6 linked regions of the Homo sapiens genome follow. The protein of the gene in region 3 purifies or fractionates together with the protein of the main gene of each other region. This does not show direct contact. Each region holds a gene or a part of one and is shown on either strand. Other genes may lie near its edges.

What was found.
Region 1: the proteins of SMARCA1 (region 3) and LIN9 purify together in Homo sapiens (affinity purification with mass spectrometry, with the first as the bait; one large-scale study listed by BioGRID). This does not show direct contact.
Region 2: the proteins of SMARCA1 (region 3) and TCF7L2 purify together in Homo sapiens (pull-down; one large-scale study listed by IntAct). This does not show direct contact.
Region 4: the proteins of SMARCA1 (region 3) and E2F3 purify together in Homo sapiens (pull-down; one large-scale study listed by IntAct). This does not show direct contact.
Region 5: the proteins of SMARCA1 (region 3) and PRDM2 purify together in Homo sapiens (affinity purification with mass spectrometry; one large-scale study listed by BioGRID and IntAct). This does not show direct contact.
Region 6: the proteins of SMARCA1 (region 3) and C1orf174 purify together in Homo sapiens (co-immunoprecipitation; one large-scale study listed by IntAct). This does not show direct contact.

What each region holds. Positions count from the first base shown.
Region 1 is NC_000001.11:226,267,584-226,271,344, reverse strand, and holds part of LIN9 (protein lin-9 homolog), read left to right. Parts: intron 1-3,254; coding exon 3,255-3,388; intron 3,389-3,761. UniProt on the Homo sapiens protein: Acts as a tumor suppressor. Inhibits DNA synthesis. Its ability to inhibit oncogenic transformation is mediated through its association with RB1. Plays a role in the expression of genes required for the G1/S transition.
Region 2 is NC_000010.11:113,142,090-113,145,850, forward strand, and holds part of TCF7L2 (transcription factor 7-like 2), read left to right. Parts: intron 1-1,833; coding exon 1,834-1,936; intron 1,937-3,761. UniProt on the Homo sapiens protein: Participates in the Wnt signaling pathway and modulates MYC expression by binding to its promoter in a sequence-specific manner. Acts as a repressor in the absence of CTNNB1, and as activator in its presence.
Region 3 is NC_000023.11:129,467,730-129,471,490, forward strand, and holds part of SMARCA1 (SWI/SNF-related matrix-associated actin-dependent regulator of chromatin subfamily A member 1), read right to left. Parts: intron 3,598-3,761; coding exon 3,475-3,597; intron 1,177-3,474; coding exon 1,044-1,176; intron 1-1,043.
Region 4 is NC_000006.12:20,478,149-20,481,909, forward strand, and holds part of E2F3 (transcription factor E2F3), read left to right. Parts: intron 1-1,697; coding exon 1,698-1,809; intron 1,810-3,057; coding exon 3,058-3,277; intron 3,278-3,761.
Region 5 is NC_000001.11:13,772,986-13,776,746, forward strand, and holds part of PRDM2 (PR domain zinc finger protein 2), read left to right. Parts: intron 1-92; coding exon 93-203; intron 204-3,761. UniProt on the Homo sapiens protein: S-adenosyl-L-methionine-dependent histone methyltransferase that specifically methylates 'Lys-9' of histone H3. May function as a DNA-binding transcription factor.
Region 6 is NC_000001.11:3,890,273-3,894,033, reverse strand, and holds part of C1orf174 (UPF0688 protein C1orf174), read left to right. Parts: intron 1-1,037; coding exon 1,038-1,151; exon of another isoform or gene 1,152-1,285; coding exon of another isoform or gene 1,286-1,293; intron 1,294-2,254; coding exon of another isoform or gene 2,255-2,408; intron 2,409-2,976; coding exon 2,977-3,465; intron 3,466-3,761.

The sequences.
Region 1 (3,761 bases), on a different chromosome or scaffold from region 3:
AATTAAAAAGTCACTCTATTAGGGATTTTGCTGTAGGAACAAAGAATCTGGCAGGTAAAAAGTGACTGGACTTTGTGATTGTCAGATACAGAGTTAGAAGCACAAGAGTTTTGACAGATGCACTGCGTATTCAAAGTAATGGAAAATTTGAATAGTAGAGAAGTTTGGAAAAATGTCTAGACATGATACTTTAGCTACAGTATATAGAAAGTTGTTTGAGACGTCATACTTAAGCCACAGTTGTTTACCCCTGGAGAAATGAGAGTGTTAAAAAAGATATTAAAATCATTGATTTGTTAAGAAATTATAAGAATCTGAACTATCCTAAAAGTAATCTTTGTAAAATGAACGATAATTCCAGGTTATCTGGGATTTTCTGTAGGTTATCTAAAGGAGTAAATGGAAAAGAAATAAAAAAGATTTTATTTATCAAATAAATTTTTCAAAAAACAGAAATGAAGAGAATAGGAAAAAAGTACATACATACACAAACCTTTTTTTTTTTTTTTTTTTTTTTTTTGAGACAGAGTCTTGCTCTGTCTTCCAGGCTGGAGTGCAGTGGTACTATCCTGGCTCACTGCAGTCTCTACCTCTCTACCTCTTGGGCTCAAGCAATCCTCCCACCTCAGCCTCCAGGGACTACAGGCACATGCCACCATGCCTGGCTAATTTTTTTGTATGTTTTTGTAGAGATGGGGTTTCACCATGTTGCACAGACTGGTCTTGAACTCCTGAGCTCCAGCGATCCACCCTCTTGGGCCTCCCAAAGTGAGCCACCACGCCCAGCCTACTTTAATTCTTTGAACATATTTATAACAGCTGCTTTTTTAAGTCTTTGCTAAATATCTCTCTCAATTTCTTACTGTACTTTTCTTAAGAGCCATGCTTTCCTACTTCTTTACATGTCTAGTAATTTTTGGTGGAAAACTTGATATTTCAGATAATATATTGTAGCAACTATGTATTCTAATTTTTTGGAGAGTTGTTGGATTTGCTTTAATAACTTGGCTATGCAAATACTGATGTCTCTGCTTCATTTTTTATTCTTATATTTATTATTATTATTAAACTTGATTTCCAAAGAGTTACCCCTGTGTCTGCATATAATTTAGTGGTCAGGGCTGGGTGCGGTGGCTCACGCCTGTAATCCCAACACTTTGGGAGTCTGAGGCGGGCGGATCACCTGATGTCAGGAGTTTGTGACCAGCCTGGCCAGCATGTGACACCCTGTCTCTACTAAAAATACAAAAAAAAATTAGCCGGGTGTGGTGGCGGGCACTTGTAATCCCAGCTACTCAGGAGGCTGAGGCAGGAGAATCACTTGAACCCGGGAGGTGGAGGTTGCAGTGAGCGAGATCGTGCCACTGCATTCCATCCTGGGCAACGGAGCGAGACTCCCATCTCAAAATAATAATAATAATTTAGTGGTCACCTAATGATTTGAACAGAGGTTATGCTCAAACATCTTGATCGGGAAAAGCCTCACATTGATTTATATGTGAGTTGGGGAATGTAAATACAAAGTTGCTGCTAGTTTTCAAGTCATCCTTAGCTTTTACTTTTTGCCAGACTATTGGATCTTCCCCCTCCATTTGCATAGTAACCCAGTTAGCCAGGGATGGTAGAGAGCTTATTTCCGCCCTTTTATGGCTCTCTAGTTTCCATGATCTCCCTGTTAAATTTCTGGCTGTCTTTCATGACCAGTCAAAATTCTGGCTGGTTTTCGTGACCAACCCTGAACTAATAAAACCATTCTCATCGACCACGTTGGTGGTAGTAGTGGGTGTGTGAATAACCTCGTGCAAAGAGGCCACTGAGTCCCCCTGCCCTAACCTGAAGCTCTAGCACTTCTTCAACAATAAACGTTTCTTGTTTTCTACATTTGATCCATTTCCAGTACCCTGGAATGGTTGTTTTTCACAATCTCATTCAGGTTTGTACTTGTTTTTTGTGGAGAGGAATTACCAGCCTCTTCATGCCACCATAACTAGTAGTCCTTTTCTATGCTTATATTTGTTTACTCAGCTTCATTATTTACATCTTCTGTATCCATGTTTACTTTTCCCTTAAAGGATCTGTCAGAAACTGAGAGAGATTTTAGTCCTCTACAGTTGTGTTTTTATCAATTGATCCTTTTATTTTAAACAGTCTTGCATTGTGTATTTCTGTGTTCTATTAAAATGTTGTGTATTATACTTTTTGGTTAGTATAAAATGTATTACTTTGCCCAGTTTACAGCCATCAATGCTGTTGTTCTTAAATTTTTTACTCATGCTGGATGTTTGTTTGGATTTCTCTGATGTTATTTTAGGCTGGACTTAAATAATAGTGACACAGTTCATCTGTGTCATCAGTTCCAAGACTACTAGTTTTGGTGATTCACTAGAAAGACTCAGAATACTCAGCACATGTACTCATGGGTAAGATTTGTTACAGTGAAGGACACAAAACAAAATTGGCAAAAGAATAAGGTGCTTGGGGCAAAGTCCAGAGGAAACCACGTGCAAGTTTTCAAAAGTCCTCTCCCAATAGAGTCATGCAAGACTTTTAATTCTCCCAGAAACAAGTTGTCACAATGCTTATAAGTGTTGTCTACCAGGGAAGCTCATTAGAGACTCAGTGACCAGAGTTCTACTGGGGGCTGAGTATGTAGGCATCTTTTGCCTAGTACATACTAAAATTCCAGTCTTCCAGAGGGAAAGCAGGTGTCCAGCATTAACCACATCGTTTGCACAATCTAGACACAGTAAAACCACCATTATTAATTAGGGAACAGTGGGAACACTTCCGAAATCCAAGTTCCCAGATACCAGACAAAGGCCAACCTTGCAAGGAGGTTTTCCTAAGTATAGCAGCATCAGGCCTGCAGTATTAACTTCTTTAATTATTTTCTACACAACATCTTTGTCTTTTTTTTTAAATTGAACTACTCCTGGTGCTTCACTCATGAGTATAATGACCAAAGTTCTTTTGTTGTTTTTTTTGCAGTTAAATGATTTAAAATATTTTTCTCTTAATTTGGGAGTAATATAATTTTATTCAAATATGAAATTAGGGATCATCATTTATAGTTTTTGTTTTTGTTTCAAAAATTCTTTGTTGTTTCTCTAAGCCAAAAATAAAGTGTGTGCTTGTTTTGAAACTCTAATAGACAAAATACTGTACTATGATTTAAATTACATGCTTGGAACAGTTTTATATTTGACTATTCTTTGTATCTCCCACACATCATAATGCCTTTGTTCTTTTCTCAGCACGATTACGTGGTGTTCATGATGGTTTGTTCACTGGACAAATAGATGCTGTGGATACTCTTAATGCTACTTATAGAGTAACTTTTGATAGGACAGGGCTTGGAACCCATACCATCCCTGACTATGAAGTTCTCGTAAGTAGTATTTCATAATACATTTGTGTTTTATGCCTGTTAAATGTGTTATATAGAGTTTTTTTAGAAATCGTATTTTATGATAGAATCAAGACTTTATCTCACAGAGGAAGAGATCCTTAGGGGACCCCAGCCCTATCTGCTAGACCCCTGGTTCGGATCTATACTTAAGTCTTCCATTTGCCAGGAACTAGCATTTCTCTGTTGGACCTTAACGACACAGCACTTTAGTATAACCAAACTGATGAGTCCTGACTAAATAACCTTGGAGAAGAAGCTACATAACATTTTCATTGCAGCTGTTAGGTTAAAGTATAGTCCTCTTGCAAAATTGTTTTTAAAGTATAGTAACATCTTGTACTTATTTGTTCTC
Region 2 (3,761 bases), on a different chromosome or scaffold from region 3:
TGCCTCCCAGTTTTAAACAATTCTCCTGCCTGAGCCTCCCAAGTAGCTGGGACTACAGGCATGTGCCACCATACCCGGCTAATTTTTGTATTTTTAGGAGAGACAGGTTTTCACCATGCTGGCCAGGCTGGTCTCGAACTCCTGACCACCTCGGCCTCCCAAAGTGCTGGGATTACAGGCATGAGCCACCACACCCAGCCCAGCATCCCCTTTTTATCCCAGTTGTTCATTGACTGCTTTTTTCCCAAAGGGGAGAGGGAGGGAAGGTGGGGTTACTTGTAGCTCTCCTCCAACAAGATCTAAATCAGGCAGGCAGCCCCAGCAGCCTGGTGGGGTGGTCTTGGGAGAACAGGTAAGGTTAGTGTGTGTCTTTCAGGCTACCCAGTGTGTTGGTAGGATTTCCCCTTCCTAGCTCAGTAATTGGAAGGATGGGTTTAAAGTGGTGATTGCACATCACTTTGTTAGAGGGGATTGGTAGTGTTGGGGTAGGTAGGCTGCCTGGTTAGGCGGCCTTCACTGCCCCTGAACGAAGCCACACATGAGCTGGGTTTTACTGGTCTCTGAGCCCCTTTGTGCTGGTGCAGGACTGAGCCTGGCGCTTGGATGCCTGGTGGCCTCCTCCAGCCGGCCCCAGGCTCCACCAGTGAATGGCAGCGTCAACGTCTCATTTAAATAATGGTAGTACAGGGAATAGCTTTTAAATGGTTATCGTAAAACATATGATTAACGTCTGTGGACTGTTTACTTTTCCTCTGCGAACATTCTTTCAAGTGTGCAAATGGCTCGATGTAGGGTCCAAGCCCAGCTAATCTGTTTGGTTTTTGTAATAGAGAGAAAGCAATGTCTGCATGAAAATGTCACCCAGGGAGACTTAATTTACAGATTAAAAGCTTCCTGAATGAATTTTTTAAAAAATGAAGTCGTTTTCGTCCACGAACATGCAGCCCGTTCCCTCCATTACTCTGTTTTAATTCTGTGGTATTGTGCCTTTTGCCTCCCACTTCAATGGCATACATCAATTCCTCTCTGTCAGAGTGGACTACAGGATGTGCTCCTGTGGAACTGGCAGATGTGCGGTGGCACGTACTTGCAGAATCCGCTCATGTGTGCCTTGTGAAGCTCTTAGCCCCTGCGACGCACGCGGTGCCCATTCAGCAGGTGGGCTTAATCCCCACAGACGACTCTGTCCTCTAGCGGATGAAGTTCCAGAATGGAGTACACAAGCCTCCAACACCTCCTTGTCTGTTCAGCTCTGACTCTGCCTTAGATAAGATGCCAGATGGCATTTGATCAGTTTCTCCAGCTCATCCAAATAGAGGCAGAGACATTTTAGAGGAGTCACCATTTTTGAAAAAAGGCAAGGGTAGTAACTTTTCAAATGCCACAGCTCAAAAAGTGTGTTAGAAATCAGAGGAGTAGCTCTTGTGCAGGTAAGGCATGAAACTCCGCAGGGTGAAGGGCCAGAGTTGTAAGAGCAACAGGGATTACCATTGCTTCATTCTCCACCAGGTGCTGAGCCTTTTTGATGTTGTTTCTTTTAAACTTGAAACAATCACACCAGTCACATGAGGCACAAATACCCAAGATGGCATATCTTGAGTCTACTCAGTATACCAGTCCATTTAGAAGGAGATAAACTAATTTTTCAAACTGAGGCTGAGGGAAAATGAGATGAAACCTACCAACAACTCAGGATTTATAATCATGAATGAACCTTGTGCTAGGATTCCAGAAGAGATGCGTCTCTTCCTCCTTTCCCTGTTCCCATCCCCTAATGGATTGCTCTTTCCTTCTCTCCCTCCTTTGTACCTAAAATGCTGCTTCTTCCCTCAGGAATCCCACGGCCTCCGCACCCTCCAGATATATCCCCGTATTACCCACTATCGCCTGGCACCGTAGGACAAATCCCCCATCCGCTAGGATGGTTAGTACCACAGTAAGGAGTTCCATTTTTTAATTTCCTTTTTGTTTCTTACATGGGCATGTTTATTATTTATTCTGTGTGTGTGTCTGTGTGTGTGTGTGTGTGTGTGTGTGTGTGTGTGTGTATGTGTGTGTGTTAGAAGCCAGGGTTGGGGAGGGGGCTGCGGGAGGGCACAGAAAAGGTGTTGCTGAGGTGTCCTGTGGGAATACAGGCAAATCCACAGCCATTCAGGTGGCTTATGTTACTGGCACTTAGCATTCCGCGACCATGGTCCCCAGAGGCTCTGTGGACAGAGGTGCCCTGCAGTTCCTTTGGGAATTGCAGAAGACTACTGGAACTTCCACCCAATGAAGCTGGTCATGACCCTTCTGCTGTTGGCTGCCCAAACTGCAGTCATGTCATTGGGTTGAGGCTGTCGAGTCCTCCATTTTAGGTGTTACATATTTTGGGGCACAGAAGCAGGAACAAGAACGGCCTTGTTTTGAAATCCAGGGTTGGGATTAGGGCATGTTCTTGTATGATTCCAGGACCCCCCACCTCATCCTGAACATTACTCCCAAGGTTGACAACAACAGTGGAAAGTTTTGTCTGTTGAGAAGCTCCATGGGACTGAATCAGCATCTCTCTGAGAGTCTTTGCACGTTGAATGTTTTACCTAACTGTGAACGGTGGGAATGGGGCATTTGGAACCGTCACTGCAGCATGTGGGGCCTTCGTAAGCATCAATCCTAGCTCCTGGCAGTGCCCAGATTATTTGACTAACTTTTGCAACTTAAAAAAACTGTGTTTTAAATTCAGAGTAGAAAGGCCTTTGATGCATTAGCATACTGTGGCAGGTTGTGTGTATGTATATTTTTGCATGAGCATGTGTGTAATATGTGTTTCGTGATTGTTTCTGTGGATGTATTTCTCCTTACCAGTGATCTGTACTCTGAACAACACAGGACAATACATTGAATGCTAAAAGGAATAAATCCTGGTAAAACTCAGGTTTGAGTCTTAGGGAAGATGGCCTTTCAAAGCCTTAAGGAAGATAAAATTTTGGAGTGGCTTACCCCACAATTCTACCCGTATTTCTCTAGTTAGATAGATTCTATGCTGTTTTTTTTTTTTTTAATAAAAAACAGATTGCATTATGTAGTAGCTGTACCAAATACCAACCCTGGGTATAGTTTCTGTTTCTCTGTCTCTTCTTATTTTTATTGGGACGGTAGACATGAACATGAGCTTGTGACCCATTTCTTCTAAATAGATGGGGCCAACCCTCGAATAGTTCTCAGTGATCATTTGCCCCATTCGGCTGATGGGGAGATATTTGAAGGCTAGATAAAAAGGAATAGCCAACTCAGACAACCCTCTGTCAGAAAAAGTTGTGTGTCTTTCATGAGGATGCTATTTTGCATGTTGCTGTATTTTTTAATTATTGTAATGAGGTGTGATTGTCTATTGGTTACCCACAATTCTTCTTGGGGACTCTCCCCCCGGTAACTCTTGTCAACACTTGTTAATTTGACAAAAGGCTACAAATTAAGCTCTGTTAATTTAATGTTTTCTCACCGAGATCTAAATACCGAAAGAGGCCCAAAGCGCAACTGAAGTCCTTTGATTCACTGTACTTTATTTTGGTATAAATTTACATTCATTATTGTTTTCCTTTGGATGTGTAGCCCTCAATTAGTGTGATGGCTCCATTAAAGCAAGCGAGACTTCGCCTTTAATTATTACAACAAAACACCTAGTTTCAGCTTGGGGAGAGGGTCTCTATTGACATAAGCAGAGGTTATAAAATTTAATTAGCCATTCCTATCAGATTTATGGCATTCAAATTGTTCTGTGT
Region 3 (3,761 bases):
GCTATTATTAATCTTTAGTATATTTATTGGTACTGTAATGTTTCTTTCCTACTATTGCAAAAACAGAATTTCAGTGGTAGGGTTAAATAGATTTGGGGCAGGGGCTATCATAGAAACTTAAACCTACTTTGTAAACTTAAACCTACTTTGCCATTGTTTCAATGACAAAAAATGCTCTAGATTCTAAACATCTTGTTTCAAATGATAAGTTTAAGAGCTGAACCTATTTGGAAGTTAGAAAAGTCCCATGTACTACATATAGAAAACTTGCTAGACATATTTACCTATTTTTAATAAGATTTCTGGATAGCTAAACACGAAGAGGTTTCGCCCAGGGAGGGCACCAAAGCGCTGCGCCCTCTTGGCCCATACTTTGCCCTACACGCTTCATCTGTATCCTTTACAATACCCTTTATAATAAACCAGTAAGTGTAAAAAAAATCCATATGCTTCAGCAGCTAAACTGATTCTGGTCGAGCTCAACAACACAGGTGAGTAAGAGAGGGAGAGGATTTGAGGACCAGTTAACAGATTGATTAAAGCAATCTTTTCAGCTCTACGCCCGCTAGCCCCAAGTTAATGGGACCCACAGGAACTCTCTGGAATAGGGTGGAACTCTGAGGGTGTTTGAGCATCTAAATGGGCCTGACAGGAACTCTCTACTTTAAGGACGACCTAGAAAGAAAGGCACGAATTCAATCCACTGAATGTGAATCTCAGAACTGAACCAGAAGACCAAATTCCAGAGGTGGGAAGGTGGGAAACTAATTTTGTCAATGCTTATCCAAGAGCCACCCTTGTTTTATCAGAGCTTTATTTGCCTCTTTTAGCTAGGTGATAGAGACAATAGCAGTCAGTTTGTTAGGATAAATCTTATAACCTTTCTTATAACCTTTTCATAGAAATACAATTATAGTTTATACTCTCATCTATGTCTTATTCATAAAAGTTTAAAACATCTCTGAACAAAGGTACAATTAAATTGATGCTAAATAAATGAATAACGTTAAAATACAACACCATGTTTCAAATTATATACAAACCTGAATACTCCATGACCTCCTCAGGGGATTTGCCCTCTACCTCTCGAGCTATGTTATCAATGTCATCTCTTCCATATTTCTCATTAGCTTTAATAAACTGGTTAAAATCTCGTTTAGTCCAGTTTGTGAAACCCTGTGAACAAAAAGTTAAGCATTATCAATAGAGGTTAAATTAATAAATCCATTTATTGCCCTATTTACTTCTATACAATGATACATTAAAAAACACTTTAAAAGACTTAAAATGTTTCTCCTTATAAAATTGCACATATTTTATGTTGGAATCAAAAGTTGAGTGAGAGTTGTTATAGAAATAACTGCTTTTCTATTACAAAGAGAATGTTGATACATAGTTCGAAGATCTGTAGTTTTTAATTTCATATTTTATAGATGCCTACATTAAAATACAAATGCATGAAAATAAAAATGCTAATATAAATGCTGAAGTCGTGATATTCTAGTACTTCAATGATTTTTTTCACAGATCTGTTCCTACATAAATTAAAAGAGAGAAATGTGGATGCACTAAATCAAAAGAACACTGAGGAATAACCAAAAGATAATGCAAAAAAAAATTGTAGCTCTTTACATCATTCTGAACTAGTGTGAATAAATAATTTCTGTTCTAAATTATGTTCATAAATAGAACTTCTACAAGCAGAACGTTATTGGAGCCACTCAATTTCTTTACTAAAACATAAAACACTTTAGCCAGTGTTTTAAATTCCCTTGGCATTATTAGCATGTCTGTGAAGTCACAAGACCAAGAATTTGTCTTCCACTCCTCGAGCCCCAACTCACATAAATGTGATACTCCAGACACTGCAAAACTCTATCCCTGGCTTTTAGTTGATAAAGATTTCAGATGACCCCACATTTTGTTCCTACGTACTGCCATGGTTTTTTGAAAAAGATTAATTATTTAAGGCAGCAGAGAAGGACAAAAATGAATTCATATACTAGGAGAAGCAGAAAACTGATTATATTTCTAATTACAAACTAAAATATTATCTCAGTTGAGACTGTATATTCATGTTATACCGTACATTCACAATATACTCCAAGTCATGTAGCATTCTAAAGCCATAACTTTACTTTTACATTCAGGAAATACATTTTGAAAATAGAACATGAATATTTAAATGTTTTATTTTATTCTGTGGTAAGTTCTAATATTCAGCCATCTGCCATTATATTTTCAAACTAAACTTTATTACTTCCAGGCATTTGGCTCAAAAACTTATGAATGTAATTTGTGAAAATCCATACAATAAAATTACGTTATAGCAAAAAAAACCTATATAATAAATAATATACAAATATAAAAACTATCTTTCAATAATTAACGTGGAGAATTACCTACTACTATGCATCGCACATTGTTCAAAATTTGTTGAATAAATAAATCTTGCTGGCAACCCTCTATACTAAAGTAATGTCCTACGGTACACATTTTGTTTATTTTGCAAGCCTTCTATGCTGAAATTTTTATCTTCTATAGTTTATTTTAGAAGTAGAACACTCGTAAAACTCATGATAGCAATAATGACTTAAAAGCATTAATATTTTGTTCAAATGGAAACCTTCCTAATTTAATAATTGTTATACAATGATCACCTTAAATAATAATAATAATAATAAAAGCTTCAGAAATCTCTCATCATTGTATGAAAATTATAAAAAAAGATAAAAAGAATTTTGAAAATTATGAAATTATTCCATTAATAAAAAATTAGTAGAATATAACTTCAGGAGACAATTCACATCTATAAACAAAAGAAATTTAAATTTTCAAGAATATGTTAATAACAGGCTTGGCACGGTGACTCACACCTGTAGTATCAGTTGCACTTTGGGAGGCCGAGGTGGGTGGATCACTTGAGGTCAGGAGTTTGAGACCAGCCTGGCCAACATGGCAAAACCCCATCTCTACTAAAAACACAAAAATTAGCCAGGCACGGTGGTGGGTGCCTGTAATCCCAGCTACTCGGGAGGCTTGGGCAGGAGAATCACTTGAACCTGGGAGGTGGAGGATACAGTGAGCTCAGATCGCACCACTGCACTCCGGCCTGGGTGACAGAGCGAGACTGTCTCAAAAAACAAAAAAGAATATGTTAATAACTACTGTCTATCAGAATTCAAATGTGGATTCACTGACCTTATTATAATTGGCAAAATGTATGTCAAATTGCTAATACTTGACACTTATATTTTGCATATACATACTATCCACTATTTCCAAAAGGGCATATTCTATAAGATCAATTTTTAAAAATAAGGAGATTTGGTCTAAACATGTTTACAAAATAGCCCTGAGTTTTGTTGGTGTGTCACACTAGGATACTAGGCCCATACAATAAAAAGTGTGATCTATATTTTCTTTTTTTCTATTGATTGACTGTAAGTATTACAGCCATTGAAAATATTTTACTTGTGTGAGAAGTTTTTCCTTTTCTTCAGTCTCTTCTGGTGTAAGAGGTTCAGCTCCATCAATCTTTTTTTGCTCTTCTCTTTGAGCCAGAGCTGGATTTGGGATATCAGGATTCCTTGGAACCTATAAATCAAGAGATAAACTAAGAGTAAACTGATGAGAAAAATTAATTACTAAGGCTGTATATACACATATCAATCTTTAGAGTTATTTCAAGAGTAAACAATATAAAATCATAGCCAGAATGACACACGGTCCTCTCCACATTTCTGCTACCATGATCCTAT
Region 4 (3,761 bases), on a different chromosome or scaffold from region 3:
AGATCACACCACTGCACTCCAGCCTGGGCGGCAGAGCAAGACCCTGTCTCTAAAAAAATAAAATCAGTGGAAACGGACAGTCCAAACCCATGTTGTTCAAGGGTCAGTTGTATTTTATTTATTTCATTTAACATGTGATCACTACTAAAATTGTTGAGATATTTTACCCTGTTTTGTACTAAGTCTTCGAAATTCAGTGTGTATTTTACAATTATAGCACATGTCAGTTTGGATGAGCTAGTAACCAGTGGCTATCGTAGTAGACGGTGCAGGGTTAGCTGGTAACTTTCCATAGAGGGGCTGAATATCTAGCTTCCGCTGATAAGTTATTACTTACGTTTTCACATCACGGGGAGTTGTTTTGAAATTGCAACTCTCGGCTGGGTACAGTGGCTCACGCCTGTAATCCCATCACTTTGGGAGGCCAAGGTGGGCAGATCACCAAAGATCAGGACTTCGAGACCAGCCTGGCCAACATGGCGAAACCCCGTCTCTACTAAAAATACAAAAATTAGCTGGGAGTGGTGGCGTGCACCTGCAGTCCCAGCTACTTGGGGAGGGCTGAGGCAGGAGAATCACTTGAACTCAGAGGCAGAGGTTGCAGTGAGCCAAGATCGCGCCACTCCACTCCAGCCTGGGCGACAGAGCAAGACTCTGTCTTAAAAAAAAGAAACTGCAAATCTCCTCATTAGAAGAATCTGCCTGAAAATGAGCCTAAATACATATTTTTGTGCTGAGTGTCCAGTTGGTGCCATTTATTTTCTAAAACACCTGTCATACCCATACAATTAGTACTTAACAACTGCTTAACCATCTATCTTTTCTCTTGGACTCGAAGCCCCTTATCTATCTTGCTTACTAAGCCCAATGCCTAGGTACCTAGAAGACGCTATGTGGATATTTTAAAATTTAATTGGAGTTAAATTAAAAACTTAGATAAGGGCTTCTCATTTGCTAGGCTTGATAAGAAAATGGAGAAAGTAATAGTGGTTGAAGCCCAAGATTGCATGTTTGCAGTATTTGTTTTCCCGATGAAGGGCCGTTTGTAGTCTGTGACTAGTTGTGTTACGATCCAATCACCCTTTCTCTCATTGAATATACAGTATATAGAGAGAGTGATTGAAAATCTACAGAAACCCAGGCTCTGTGCCAAGCACTGGGTATACAAAGATAAATGGGAAACAGTCCCTGCCTTAAAGGAAATGAGAAACAGATAAGTCTTACAGTAATACCGAATAAGTGTCATGATACAAATAAACACAGAGTGTTTGGGGAGCACAAGGAAGGGGGTCCAACCCAGGTCGGAGAATGGGAGATGGGCAGGAAAGACTCACTGTGGAAAGGGAATTTAAGCCCCACGGCGCCTGTGATATTCTTAGCATCCAACCCCATGCCAGGCACATGATGTGTTGAATCAATGAACAAAGTGACTCCTGAACCTAATGCTGAAGGATCGCTGTGTTTGTCCATCTGGGTGTGGACGGATGATCACGGCAGGTGAAGAGAGTGTGCATGACAACCCAGCCTACAACGCTAGAATCCTGGCTCTAGGGAATGACAAGATGCTGAGTGGGGTGGAGCAGAGGGGTGAGAGCTGGCATGAGCCTGCAGCATTTGGCAGGCCAGCCCACAAACTGCCTCCCTTCTTGTTCTTGTCCATATGACCGGTGACGAGAGATCGCACTTTCTTATTACAGGCAAAGCGAAGGCTGGAGCTAGGAGAAAGCGGTCATCAGTACCTCTCAGATGGTTTAAAAACCCCCAAGGGCAAAGGAAGAGCTGCACTACGAAGTCCAGATAGTCCAAAAAGTAAGGATCTTTTCATCTCTTTCCTTATTCTCCTTGGTATGGCATTTCCAAGTTTCAAAGCTTATGGCCGGAAGGATGCCAAGGTGTGAATAATTCTGGCATGTTTTGTTCTTTTTCATTTCTTTCTGTGCTTATCCAAAAAAATAAATACAATGTCAGCAGACAACCAGTGAAAGGCTACAGAGTCACACTGGTACCATAAGGGAAGACTTCTTTTAACTGTATGTAGTTTCATTTTTCAACTCGGAATACGAACTTTTGGCACCATTCTATATCAAATTTAATTTTAACTTCCCTTAATGGACATTGCTTCAGAGTCTGAGGCAAACTGGATGTCCACGAACTATGCCAGAGTCACCAGTGTCTGTGCCGACCTCAATCTCCAGCTCAGCATATGATAGCGTAAGAATTGATTGAGCCCGATAAATTGCAGGCTGTTTCTCTTTCTATCAAATACTATTACCGTTTCTTGTGGGAGAGAGAGAAACGTAGGTTAGAAATAGCCAACTAGTCCCATTATGTATGTGTTTGCATTTAACATAAGGGCTAAATTAGACTTTGTTCTCTCTCTTCCTTTAGTTCATGCATTAGGCAATCCACAAATTGTGTGACACTAAATTAAAACCTTGACCTGTGCACCTATGGGGGAACAAGTACAATATTAAGTAAGGAAATTTCCTTTAAGAGAGATGGGGAGATTTGGCAGAAGACTTTTCCAGGTAATTATTTATCAAAATGAAGCATTGTTTGGAAAATTGGTGAACAGGTGATACACGCACACACAGATACCAGAGCCTGAAAGGCCATTTGAGATGGGTCTGTTTAAGACCTTGTCCTGCAGTGCTAGTGAGACTCATAGCCTGGCTCCATCACCGTAGGCCTCGTGTGTGCTGGTCCCCTGAGGCCACAGCACTCTTTCATTCATTTGACAGATATTTTTTAGCGCCCGCTATATGTAAATTCTTCATTGGAGCCAGGGAATGGTGTAAGTCAAGGTAGAAACTCTTGAGAAATTCAAGGTGAAATGCTTTAATCAAACCCTGGAATTTTTACCTTCCCTTCCTGCTCTAATAAAAAACTTTCATAGCTTTCTATGACTTGCCAACACCAACAGCAACGACAGCCTTGCTTCAGATACTAATACTTTGGCTGCAGTGGGAAAGAGAGCTTGCTTGACTGCAAAGACACCCTTCATTTCTTTACCTTTCCCCCTATCCCCCACCCGCTCGGTTTTTGTTTTTCTTTAAGCTCCAAAATCTCCCTCAGAAAAAACGCGGTATGATACGTCTCTTGGTCTGCTCACCAAGAAGTTCATTCAGCTCCTGAGCCAGTCACCCGATGGGGTATTGGATTTGAACAAGGCAGCAGAAGTGCTAAAAGTGCAAAAGAGAAGGATTTATGATATCACCAACGTTCTGGAAGGCATCCACCTCATTAAGAAGAAGTCTAAAAACAACGTCCAATGGATGTGAGTAGGAGTCCTCCCCATGCCCCGGCTCTGAGGGGGTCGTTTCAAACTGCCTGGTTTCTTAGTTCCTCACTTTCACATCCACGCCCACACGTTCTTTTCTTTTCTCTCCTACTGTTTTCTTCTCTCTCATTCTCTCTTCCCTCCTCAGCTTCTAAGCCAGAAGTTTGAAGTCTCTTTACAAAGAGACTTTGTTTAGATACTGTCAGAGATAAAAGGATTTATATTTGATGAGCATCCAGCAACGGCATCCTTAAAGAGGTCCCTGCAGTTGGAAAGTGGACTGCTGTTCATCTGTTACATAGATGTCTGTGTGCACCCACGTGTGTATCTGACAGATGTGTACACGTCTTCAGCTTGTTTCTAATAAGAATCTGGAAATGATGGCTTATGGGTTATCTATGTGTATACGTACAACTGCATAGTTACAGAATATCTTTATCCATGGTTCTAATAGCAGATTAACTCACTTTCTGGGTAAATT
Region 5 (3,761 bases), on a different chromosome or scaffold from region 3:
TCTTCAGTAATTCAGAATAACACATGAGGGAATGAATGAATGAATAAATAAAAAAAAAATGAATGAATAAATTAAAAAAAATTGTGTTTCAGGGAAGAAAAAATCCCAGGAAAATAAAAACAAAGGAAACAAAATCCAAGACATACAACTGAAGACAAGTGAGCCAGATTTCACCTCTGCAAATATGAGAGATTCTGCAGAAGGTAAGCTTGTGATATTGGCTTGGTCTGAATTGGGTGTGTATGTACCCAGTGAATTTAACTTTGTATCTCTTTATATTGTCCTTCTGAGAATCATTTAGGATCTTTACGAGGTTAAACAGCAAAAAAGCTGCCTAAATTTAATGTGGTAAGCTGAGCCTTCTATATGCTACCTTCCCTTCAAACAATTGTGAAAGACTTTTCTTCTTAAAAATGAACTTGTTCCTTTGTTAAAATAAAATGAGACCAGGTGTGGTGGCTCACACCTGTAATCCCAGCACTTTGGGAGGCTGAGCCAGAAGGATCTCTGGAGGCCAGGAGTTTGAGGCCAGCCCGGGCAACATAGTGAGACCCTGTTTCTACAAAAGAAAATAAGAAAATTCACTAAGATGATGGCATGTGCCTGTAGTTCTAGCTACTTGACAGGCTGAGGTGGGAGGATCACTGGTGCCCAGGAGTTAGAGGCTACATTGAGCTGTGATCCCCCCACTGTACTCCAGCCTGGGTGACAGGGCGAGACTGTCTCTAAAAAAATAAAAATAATGATAATAAAATGAAACATATGATTGCATTTAAAAATAGCATGAAGTTCAAAACCATCAAAAAATAGTGATAGCAAGGACATGAGGAGGCACCTGGGGTGCTCGCTGTTTTCTATTATTCATCTGTGGAATGGTCACATGGGTATATATATTTAGTGAAAATTTTATCTTGCTATATACTCAACTATTTGTACACTTTAATACATGTACGTTTTATACTTCAAATTAAGCATTTACTTACAATGTCAGAGACTTTGATTTTTGTATAACAGAACAAAAAGTATACAGAATGAAGTGTGTTTCTGTTTTTTGTTGGAATTTAAATTCTTATTTTGTCTCTTCGTGTTTGTCCCCTTAAAATTTTCTCCTTTATAGTCCCTCTGGTGATAATATTCTAGGCCTGCCACGACGTAAGAATCCAACCAAGAGGCATGGATTGAAAGTTAATCAGAAAGACAGCTTGCCCTCTGCTCATTGCAGTTGGGCCACCATATTGAGACTATTGATACAGAAGGGAAGGAGGTGTGTCTTAATTTGCCATGGGCAAATTTTTGCAGATTGCAGCTTACTTGAGTTGTTTATAGTGAGCCAAGTAGGCAAATTTCAGAAGACAGGTTTGTGACTCTTTTAAGAAATATTTGTAGAGGAAAATAACCAGAATATTTTGGATGCCTTTCATAACCATTTTTAAGCACTGTTTGTGATGATAACATTCATAAAAGATATAATTTTCTGTGAAACAAGAATAGTCAAGTTCATTTCCCAGAGTCTTAAGACTAAGTTCTGCCTCCTCATTGCAGGTGTGCCGAGAGTTTTTTTTGAACAACAAAAATTACTAAGGAACCTCACTACCTTTGGCGGTAGAATTAGAAAACAGATTCAGCAGTCACCTACTCCCCTTCAGTAATTCGAGACAATTATTTTTCTCCTGACACAACATCAGGTCCCATGAAAAATGACACTTGCTGGCCTGGCGCGGTGGCTCACGCCTGTAATCCCAGCACTTTGGGAGGCCGAGGCGGGTGGATCACAAGGTCAGGAGATCGAGACTATCCTGGCTAACATGGTGAAACCCCGTCTCTACTAAAAATACAAAAAAATTAGCCAGGCGTGGTGGTGGGCGCCTGTAGTCCGGGAGGCTGAGGCAGGAAAATGGTGTGAACCCAGGAGGCGGAGCTTGCAGTGAGCCGAGATCGTGCCACTGCACTCCAGCCTGGGCGACAGAGCGAGACTCCGTCTCAAAAAAAAAAAAAAAAGAAAAATGACACTTGCTCTTCACCCCCCAGTATTTGGCACAGCTGGTCAAAGTGGTGTCGTAGGCTTCCGCTGAATGTTCTGCGTTGTCCTCAGCAAATGGTCTATACCATGAGCAAACAGTTCAGACTCTTCTTTGTGCTCCCAAACCTCCCTTTATGTTCAAAACTCCAGAGACCACATAAAGTGCGTGGATCCACTCTGGCATGGGCCGTGCTTGTTAATGGAGCTGTGCAGACTTCGGTTTATGTTACTTTGGACAGTTTTATATCTGGGATTGTTTACCAGTCATGGGGAAAGACATTTTTTCCCCATCAAAAGAAGCCACAGATTTTGACTGAAAATAAAGTCTGTTAGGAAATTTCTGAGCCTTAGAGTTGGCGTTTTCTGTTGTCTCATTTCAACTCTTTTGGCAGTATTCGGGGTCTCTATTGAAAATATCTTTGAAAAGAGAGGTAGCTCCTAATTTGAAATATGTTACTACTGTCGAATGACTGGTTTCCCACTTTGTGGAAAGCTCATGGAATTTATGAAATTAGTCTAGGGGGAGAGAAGGCTGTTTCTGTTTGGAAACAGAAACCTCATTGCTAGTAAATGGAGTAGCAGATGGGAAACAGTAATTCCCGATATTCCTGGGAAACAGCAAGGAGGCTAGGACTGAATAAGTGAGCTTGTATGAGTAATACTTGGCATTGACCTCTTCCCCACTGTATCCACGCAGTCCCCATGTCCAGTAGCAGGCCTCTCAGATCGTGAGGGTCTGGCTGCTCTTTTCTGCCTCCACTGCCTCTTCCCCTTTCCTTCTTAGCACAGCAGCCAGCATCTCCATTCTCATTCTGCTCTGCCAGTCTTGCTCCTCGGCCTCCAGTGATGACCTTCCCCCATCCCTTCACCCACCCTGCAGCCGAATCTCCCAGATGGCAGTCTCCTGCTTTCAGATACCTTCAGTGGCTCCCCACTGTCCCCAGATAAGTCCACATTAATTTACAGTGTTCTCTATGTTTTGACTCTTTTCTGCTTGCTTTTCCTCTTCTGTCCTTAATTCTTGTATTCTTCAGGTTCTGTCTGCTTAGTCCTTTCTCTAAGAAGCCTTTCCTGATTAATCAAACCCATATGAGATGCTTCCGTACCACACTCACTTCCATAAACACAGCCATCAATGTTCTACAGTTTCGTTGCCTTCCTGCTTGTGTGTGGCTTGTATTAAAGTGAAGCTCTCTATGGGTAAGGATCGTGACAGTCTTGTTTACCTAGTACTGGCAGATAGTGGGTGCTAAGTCAGTATTTGCAAGTGATTGGGGGAACAGCCAGGTAATGTAGCCTGGAGAAGAAGTCAGAATAGCTCTGCCTCCTCCGTGGAACCTTTCTTAACTCTCCTAGTGCCTGCAGTAGAGGGGTCCGCTTCTGCAGTGCAGCAAGTGGGACTGTCGCGACAGCAGCATTGGGGACCATTCCTACTAGCACGAAACCGCGATTACAGCTTCCGTCTTTAAGAATCCCCTCTTGTCCCTGTGTTTTCTTCCAGTCTCTTCTCCATTTCTTTTTCTTTACAGGTAAACTTGAAAGAGTTGCTAATAGTCTCCCTGTCTCTCCATCTCCTTCCATTCTCTTAGGAACTCTGTTAGACATTTGTCCCCACTACTCCACTTGCTGTCACAATCACAAGACCTCTGCCTTGGCAGATGGAATGTTCCATTCTCAGTCCTCATTTTATCCAACCCATCAGGAGTTCTGGACACAGCTGATCATGCCCTCCTTGAAGCAG
Region 6 (3,761 bases), on a different chromosome or scaffold from region 3:
CTATAGTTTAGTGAAGAGTACCGTAATGTCACTAATTTCTTAATGTTGACAATGTCCTGTAGTTGTTTAACATTAGTGGAAGCTGAGTGAAGGCTACATGGCAACTCCCTGTACTATTTTATTATTATTATTTTTTCAGAGACACTGTCTCACTCTGTCACCCAGGTGGAGTGCAGTGGTGCAGTCATAGCTCACTACAGCCTCAGACTCCTGGGATCAAGTGATCCTCTCACCTCAGCCTCCCACATAGCTGGGACTACAGGTGCACACCACCACACCTGGCTAATTTTTAAAAAAATTTTTTAAAGATGGGCTTTCGCTGTATTGCCCAGGCTGGTCTTGAACTCCTGGGCTCGAGCGATCCTCCTACCTCAGCTTCCCAAGTAGCTGGGATTACAGGTGTGAGCTATCACACCAGTTTCTTTGTACTATTTTTTGCAACTTTCTGAATGCCGAAAATTATTCCTAAATAGTTATTTTAAATGTTATGTCTTTAATTAATTTCTTTCTTGTTATTAGAGGAGTTTGCTTTGCATTCAGGATAAAAGAGAGGTGGACCAGTTTGTTAATATTAAAATTTGTGAGACAGTCGCTAGCTGCATTCAGCTAATAGAATAGGAGTCTAATTTGAGGAAGAGAAACTTTGGTTTCCTCATGTTACCTTTTTTTAAAAACTTTGACAACGTATGAAAGTTGGAGAGCCTTCTAAGGAAGGGCATGTGCTGCTTATTCTAAACACTTTGAAGTTGACTTAATTTCCACTAAAGGACAAATGGTGGCTACTAGAAATATACAAGATAAGGGGGACAGATCGTCCCAAGCCTCCAAAATCGTGGAAATAGTAGATCCTGTATCCTAAATCCAGGCACAGTTTCATTTGGATTTACACATTCGGGCCACAGCTGTCTCCACAAAGATGATAAAATCCTGGGAGTGGGAGGGGCGGTCTTCGGGTGTTCTTTAGGTGGGAAATTCTCGTCTACATGTTCATGCTGCCTTCCTGAGAGCACTCTCTGAGTGGCTCTCAATCTCTCTAGCTCACAGGTGCAGTGCGGTCTTCAGCGCGCTTGAAAGCACGAAGTTGTTCGGCAGCCAGGTTGGCCTCTGCCCAGGAAGTTGCTGGTTCCACGTCTGCCAAGACAGCATGTCTGGTGAGCCCTGTTACCGTGGAGAACGCCAAGATCCTGACTCGAGGGTCCATTTTTATACAAAATTGCCACTCCAAGATGTGTTGCTTTAGAAAAATATCGACTGTTACTTATCTGCCAGAGGGGGACTATTGCAGATGAAAAGGTGACAGCACTGTAATTGCCTTCAGAGAAAGACACACTCTGCAGGCCAGGGCTGGCTCTCCTAGCACCCGCCCACCCGTGTGTGTGTCTAGACCCGGGCTCTGATCCTAGCACCCGCCCACCCGTGTGTGTGTCTAGACCCGGGCCCTGATCCTAGCACCCGCCCACCCGTGTGTGTGTCTAGACCCGGGCCCTGATCCTAGCACCCTCCCACCCGTGTGTGTGTCTAGACCCGGGCCCTGATCCTAGCACCCTCCCACCCGTGTGTGTGTCTAGACCCGGGCCCTGATCCTAGCACCCGCCCACCCGTGTGTGTGTCTAGACCCGGGCCCTGATCCTAGCACCCGCCCACCCGTGTGTGTGTCTAGACCCGGGCCCTGATCCTAGCACCCGCCCACCCGTGTGTGTGTCTAGACCCGGGCCCTGATCCTAGCACCCGCCCACCCGTGTGTGTGTCTAGACCCGGGCCCTGATCCTAGCACCCGCCCACCCGTGTGTGTGTCTAGACCCGGGCCCTGATCCTAGCACCCGCCCACCCGTGTGTGTGTCTAGACCCGGGCCCTGATCCTAGCACCCGCCCACCCGTGTGTGTGTCTAGACCCGGGCCCTGATCCTAGCACCCGCCCACCCGTGTGTGTGTCTAGACCCGGGCCCTGATCCTAGCACCCGCCCACCCGTGTGTGTGTCTAGACCCGGGCCCTGATCCTAGCACCCGCCCACCCGTGTGTGTGTCTAGACCCGGGCCCTGATCCTAGCACCCGCCCACCCGTGTGTGTGTCTAGACCCGGGCTCTGATCCTAGCACCCGCCCACCCGTGTGTGTGTCTAGACCCGGGCCCTGATCCTAGCACCCTCCCACCCGTGTGTGTGTCTAGACCCGGGCTCTGATCCTAGCACCTGCCCACCCGTGTGTGTGTCTAAACCAGGCTCTGAGGCCACTTGTGCTCATCGCTCTGCTCTTAGCGTGCTATGGAGTCATGCTGGCCCATTGCCGTGCAGCCTCACCGCCAGAGGCTTGAAGAGAAAGGCAGAGTGGGTGGGGAAAGGAATCTCATGCCGTCTGCCGTTCACCCTAGCCCAGCCATCGATTCCGAGGAGCGAGTTCCTGAACTTACCGGTGAAGTAGAGCCGCTTCACGGAGCCTACAGTTGAGGGGTTAGGACTTGGCCATATGCCAGCGTGTAGCACAGAGCTTTGCTCATGATGAGGTGCTTGGTAAAATTTTGTCGAAGTCAATTTCACAAATATTTCTTGAGCACCTACTGTGTGCCAGGCACTAATTGGTGAATAAAGCAAAGACCCCTGCCTTCACAGAGCTTATGCCCTAGCAGAAATGAATGAAAGCTGGATTCTTTTACTGTAATTGTATAATATATAAATATATGCTTCAGAATTCACCTGAGGAGCTGTAACGCCACTAGGGGAAACTGAAAGTGTAGGAGTGGTGTGGAGCTGTAACGCCACTAGGGAAAACTGAAAGTGTAGGAGTGGTGTGGGGTGTGTCTAGATTCAGTCTCGCTTGTATTTTGTCCCTTGGTGGCAAAACAGTGAAATGACGATCTGTGAAAGTTGTGGTCACAGCATCTTTATCATTTCCGATGTGAGAAGAAATACTAGCCTCTGGATTGAGGCCTGTTTTATTTGCTAGATATGTCTGGTTCCCCTTACATTTTTTTTCTTGACAGACTTCCTCATCCCACAAAGCCACAGACACGCGAACGTCCAAGAAGTTCAAATGTGACAAAGGACATCTTGTGAAGTCAGAATTACAGAAGCTTGTCCCTAAGAATGACAGCGCTTCTTTGCCAAAAGTGACACCTGAGACCCCTTGTGAAAATGAGTTTGCTGAAGGCAGTGCCTTGCTTCCAGGCAGCGAGGCTGGCGTTTCTGTGCAGCAGGGGGCTGCAAGTCTTCCTCTCGGTGGCTGCAGAGTTGTGAGTGACTCTCGCTTAGCAAAGACTAGAGATGGCCTGTCCGTGCCAAAACACAGTGCCGGGTCCGGAGCAGAAGAATCCAACAGCAGCTCCACTGTGCAGAAGCAGAATGAGCCAGGGCTACAGACAGAGGATGTGCAGAAGCCACCACTTCAGATGGACAACAGCGTCTTTCTAGATGACGACAGCAATCAGCCAATGCCCGTGAGCCGGTTCTTTGGAAACGTTGAGCTCATGCAGGTAAGAGCGGCGCCTTCCTCCTCCCGTGGGTACTCAGGCAGCAGCTGCACATTCAGGTCACACACTCCCCACTCAGTGCAGGTAAATAATGCCTCGACACAACATTAAACATAAACTAATCATTTTAACCCACGAGGAGAAAATGAAACCGTTGGCTAATTGGGGGCTCTCCCTGCATCTCCCGAGCTGAGAATCACTGCTCTCGGGAAAGGTGTGTTTCCATGAAATCAGGTTTGTGGTTTTTTTGAACATCCACCCCGCGCTTGCTGTTAATTTCTTTTGTTTTGAACCCAGCA